2 separate regions of the Homo sapiens genome follow, and region 2 is linked to region 1. The links come from fine-mapping of genetic effects on gene expression. Tissue or cell type: whole blood. Region 1 holds a variant in brackets; the other region holds the start of a gene. All regions are shown on one strand. Distances are from middle to middle.

The links. PIP is the estimated chance that this variant, and not a neighbour inherited with it, causes the effect.
Region 2: it holds the start of RCC2, and the variant in region 1 is fine-mapped to the expression of RCC2 in whole blood (INTERVAL, PIP 0.99).

Annotation. Positions count from the first base shown.
Region 1 is chr1:17,464,009-17,466,763 of GRCh38, reverse strand. No RefSeq gene overlaps it. Among named protein-coding and RNA genes, the nearest start is that of RCC2, 26 kb to the right of the region's middle. The variant A/G (reference allele first, on the strand shown) is at 1,378.
Region 2 is chr1:17,438,079-17,440,833 of GRCh38, reverse strand. RCC2 (regulator of chromosome condensation 2) reads left to right here and starts at 1,157. Exons shown (of 13, transcript NM_018715.4): 1 at 1,157-1,289; 2 at 2,312-2,604. The coding sequence starts at 2,320. It overlaps LOC124903862 (a long non-coding RNA gene), which reads left to right. Exons shown (of 2, transcript XR_007065508.1): 2 at 1-698. RefSeq lists silencers at 918-1,057, 2,377-2,476.

The DNA of each region.
Region 1 (2,755 bases):
TGGAGATCATGACACTGCACTCCAGGCTAAGTGACAGAGCAAGACTCTGTCCCAAAGAAAAAAAAAAAAAAGACTGGACTGGGCCCCTGAGTCAGGAACAGTGTGGGGAAGATTCCAGCAAGGCAGGGGATGACATCTTGAAGACGGGACAGCGCTCCCTACCCCTGTACCTGAGCAAATCCACTTTCCCTCCCGAATCCCACCCACCTGTTCTGGGCCCCGCCTCTCAGATTCCTCTGAAGGTTGACAGATACAATAGCCCAAAACATGCCACTTTGCAATGAGGATCCTGTTGAGCTGAAAGCAACTGAGAAGAAGCAGATAGAAGAAAAGCTCTCTCTGCCAGGGTCGGTGGCTCCCACCTGTAATCCCAGCACTTTGGGAGACCAAGGCGGGTGGATCACCTGAGGTCAGGAGTTTGAGACCAGCCTGACCAACATGGAGTAATCCCGTCTCTACTAAAAATACAAAATTAGCCGGGCGTGGTGGCACGTGCCTGTAATCCCAGCTACTCGAGAGGCTGAGGTAGGAGAATCGCTTGAACCCTGGAGGAGAAGGTTGCAGTGAGCCGAGATAGCACCATTGCACTCCAGCGTGGGCAACAAGAGCAAAACTCATCTCAAAAAAAAAAAAAAAAAGAAAGAAAGAAAGAAAAAGAAAGAAAAGCAGGCCAGGCGCAGTGGCTCATGATGTATGAGAGGCTTGGCCAGGGACAGTATAAGAACAGGCACAGGCCAGGTGTGGTGGCTCACGCCTGTAATCCCAGCACTTTGGGAGGCCGAGGCGGGTGGATCAGGAAGTCAGGAGTTAGAGACCCGCCTGGCCAACATGGTGAAAACCCATCTCTACTAAAAATACAAATATGTGCCGGGCGTGGTGGCACAGGTCTGTAATCCCAGCTACTCGGGAGGCTGAGGCAGGCGAACTGCTTGAACCCGAGAGGTGGAGGTTGCAGTGAGCTGAGATTGCACCATTGCACTCCAGCCTGGGCAACAAGAGCAAGATTCCGTCTCAAAAAAAAAAAAAAAAAAAAGAAGAAGAAAAGCTCTCTGCCCTTCCCGTAGCTGCCAAAAAGCAAGACATAAATTTATAAATGTGCCCACCCCGCAAAAAAAACCACCAGGAAGGACAAAAGTTGATCCCAGAGACACCTCCAGACCCTAAACTTCCTGGGGCCCAGAGGAGTAGACTTAACCGACTCCACTCCTAGCTCCCATCTTCCATTCATCCCCCATATATTGACCCTCTCACGATTTGCTGCCCTAGTGCTTTCCCTTCGTCTTTTCACTTCACTAAAATGTATTCTTCTTTTGTTAAGTTGCTACATAAACCCCAGTTCTAACCACCCTCTTGAGTCACTTACCTCTGAGTACTCCC[A/G]TGTACAAGTGTCATAATCAACTTCTGTTTATTTTTCTCTTGCCAATCTGTCTTTTGTTAGTCTAATGAATAGGGTCCCAGCCAAAGAATCTAAGATGGGTACACGCCCTACCCACCTTCCTTCTCTCTTCCTCAAGATTCCGAGCGCTCACTGCTATTTAATCATCTCTACCTGTGCCTGTTCTCTTTTTTTTTTTTTTTTGAGATGGAGTTTTCTCTTGTTGCCCATTTTTGAGTGCAGTGTTGTGATCTCAGCTCACTGCAACCTCCACCTCCCAGGTTCAAGCGATTCTCCTGCCTCAGCCTCCCAAGTAGCTGGGATTACAGGTGCACACCACCATCCCCAGCTAATTTTTGTATTTTTAGTAGAGACAGGGTTTCACCATGTTGGCCAAGCTGGTCTTGAACTCCTGACCTCGGGTGATCCACCCACCTTGGCTTCCCAAAGTGCTGGGATGACAGGCGTGAGCCACCGCACCTGGCCTGTGCCTGTTCTTATACTGTCCCTGGCCAAGCCTCTCATACTCCACCATAGTTTCCTCATCTGTGAAACGGGGATTTCAGGAGTACCCACTTCCTGGGCACATATGTGAGGCATGAGGACTAAACTCTGATTTTTTGTTTTTGTTTTTTTTGAGACGTTGTCTGGCTCTGTCGCCCAGGCTGGAGTGCAGTGGCACAATCTCAGCTCACTGCAAGCTCCACCTCCTGGGTTCACACCATTCTCCTGCTTCAGCCTCCCGAGTAGCTGGGATTACAGGTGCCCGCCACCACGCCCGGCTAATTTTTTGTATTTTTAGTAGAGACGGGGTTTCACCATGTTAGCCAGGATGGTCTCGATCTCCTGACCTCGTGATCTGCTTGCCTCGGCCTCCCAAAGTGCTGGGATTACAGGCGTGAGCCACCGCGCCCGGCCTAAACTCTGATTTTTATCTTGCCCAAATTCCTATCTAAGGGGTCTGGGGAGCCATGCCCTACAAATCATAAATTCTCTTCAGATGGGTTTTATTTAACCCTAGGTATTGTGACTGACTTTCCAACCTGACTGACTCTGGCATAACATTATGAGACAAGGAAGAACATCAAAATATTTTACCCCAAAACATGTTTCTTTGTCATATTTTGAAATGTCCCTACAAAGCTGTTCCTTGCTAGGGAAAATTTGCATCTGTAAAGAATCTCTATTAACATAGCTAGATCTTTTTCTTCCAGAACCTCACAATCCTATAGAGATTAACTAAGATCTGAATAGGAAACATTTGCCATTTATTGTCTCTAAAAGCAGCCACTATAAGACTTCAAAAGAACTTTGGTGTCCACAATATTTATCTTTTTTTTTTTTTTTCCTGAGATGGAGGTTTGCTCTTGCTGCCCAGGC
Region 2 (2,755 bases), 26 kb after region 1:
GTAGGAAGCAAGCAAGGCTTTTTTCACCCGTCCCAGGACACGCGAACGAGATCAAGCCTCACTGCGGTTCACTAGGGTCTATGCAGGCCCTCGCACCCCTGCCTACCTCCTCAGAACCCAGCCTCTTGGCTCTTCTCACCCCAGCCCCACCAGACAGCTTCCCTCCCAGGAGGTGTCTCTCAAGATCTCGAAATGTGGAGCGTCCCGTTCACTCCACCTGGCCTGGAATACTTTTCCTGCCCCCTTTCATCGGGTCTTATTCATCCTTTAAGTTGTTCAGCATAACTTTCCACCTGAATGCCTTCCCTGGCCCTGGACTAGGATAAATCCCCTCGCCATAATGTTCCTACACAGGCATCACTTTGTAAAGCTTACCACTGTTGTAATTACTTGTTTACTGATCTGTCTTTCCGTTAGGCTGTGCGTTCCACTGGGGTGGAAACCTTGTTCACTGGCTCTGCAGCCCCGGGCACTGTGGGTCTTGCATGTACCGGGGGCTCAGTAAATATTTGGCAAAAAATGAAAAAGTTCCCCTCAAAGCCAGCTTCCAGTGCCTCCACGGCCCTCAAATTAATTATGAATTAATTCACTAATACAGCAAACCTTTATGTGATTCTTCCGTGTCACAGCACCTTGTTACATACTGAGGACACATCCACAGGCAAATAAAACTCAGCTTCTCTCTGCACAGGAAAAAATTATTCAAATTGTATTCATCTTTCATTCCAATCACTCAATTAGGGCACGTCCCTTGTTGGCTGCTGCGTGAGCGAAGTAACTATTTTCCAGCGAGTGTCCTCATGTGACCTGTCTAGACGTGCCCAGGAAAAACAATCCAACATCCTCCTAAGCCGCAAAGAAGTCCCTGACGCGCAGGCCGCACTGCGTGGAAGGCCCAAAGCGCGCTCGCGGGCCCGCGAAAGGCGCAGGAGCAGCGGAGCCGAGGCGGGCGGCGAGGCGCGCGGCGCGCGGCGCAGGCTCGGGTGGGCAGGGCAGGGCCAGGCCGGGCGGGGCGGGGGCGCCGGCAACGGGTCCGCCGGCCGGCAGGGGGCGCGCGCGCCCCGCGCCCCGCGCCTCCCGCCCCGCCGCGCGCTCGCTTGCCGCGCGGCCGCACATGTGTTTCTGTTTTGTGTTGTAGCATTTGTTCTGGAAGCTCGTATTTACATTTTAAGTGTATCTGGTGAGTGGGCTGGAGCCCTCGTCTGGGCCGGAAAAAAAAAAGCCCTCCGATCCGTCTTTTAGTTGCTTCTCTTCCTTTTTTCTCTCCGGTTTCTCATCACTCCAACCAGGTAGGGTCTGAAAATCGACAGTGATCAGTTTGTGGGGTCTGGGAAAGTTTTTTTTTTTTTCCTTTTTTTAAAGAGAAAAGGTTAAAAAAAAACCTGGGGGAGGGGGGCTGGGTGATTGAAGGAATAAAAAGAGGAAGGAAGGCGGATCCACGTGGTTTAATCGGAGACAGACAGAGATCCCATTGTTCAAAATCAATTAAAAAAAAAAAAAAAAGCAGACAGGGGAGAGCGCAGGGACGCCGGGGAGCTGGCGGCGGCCCTGGACACTTTGCAGTCGAATCGGAGACCGGCCGGGCCGCACGGCCGGCAAGGGGGCTGGGAGAGAGTTGGGCACCATTAAAGTTTTTATTTTTCGTGTCTGTGCGAGCAGGTGTTTGGGGCTGGGGTCCAGCTTTCTTCGGGCTCTTCCCCCGTCGCCGGGGGCAGTCCGCCGTAGGGATTCGGCTAACTAGAGCCCGAGGTCGGCACCCCTGAGCTGGGGCCGAACGGGGGTCCAGGGCTGATGCGGGGTGGGGGAGAGCGTTGCATTAAATGCCATGAGTGGGTTTGGGGGGAGACTGCGGAGACAAAAGCAGCAGGTGGGGTAGCCGGGGAGCAGGGGCTCCCTTACCACCCAGGTGCCAAGGGGGAATCCTGGAAGTGTCCCGAAGCCTTCTTTAATGAAAATCTAGGGGACTGGAGGCTGGTTTTACTTTCCCTTTACTTTTGGGGGGCGAGGTTGCAACTGTGATGCTTTGTGGGCAAACCTAACTTACGGATAGGCCGGGGGTCTCAATTCTCCCTCCAGGGGATTGCCTCTGGGGCTCCCGGCTGCCCTGCGGGATTCCCCGAAGGAGCCGCGCCGGGGCCAGGGAGGGGCGCGATTTCCTCTCCCAACTCGCCCCCTCTCCGCCCACCCTGCGGCCGCCACTTTGGGGAGGGCAGAGGAGGAAGTGGAGGCCGGGTGGCTCGTCTCCGCTCCCCTCCCCCCGCGCAGTTTATAACCCGTCCATTGTGCGCCGCTGCCCCGTGTCTCCCTCCAGCCGCGACCATGCCCAGGAAGAAGGCGGCGGCGGCGGCCTGGGAGGAGCCGAGCTCGGGCAACGGCACTGCCCGCGCCGGGCCCAGGAAACGCGGCGGCCCGGCGGGCAGGAAGCGCGAGCGGCCCGAGCGCTGCAGTAGCAGCAGCGGCGGCGGCAGCAGCGGCGACGAGGACGGCCTGGAGCTCGACGGGGCCCCCGGCGGGGGCAAGCGCGCGGCGCGGCCGGCGACAGCAGGCAAGGCGGGCGGCGCGGCCGTGGTCATCACCGAACCCGAGCACACCAAGGAGCGCGTCGTGAGTGAGGGTCAGGGTAGACGGGTGGGCGCAGGGCCGGGGCCGGCGGGCTCAGCGACGCGGCACGGCGCGCGTTCCAGCCGGGGGCCGCCTCGCGTCACGCTCCCTCCCGGCGGCCGGGCCGGCGCAGGCCGCGGGCTGAATCATTGCC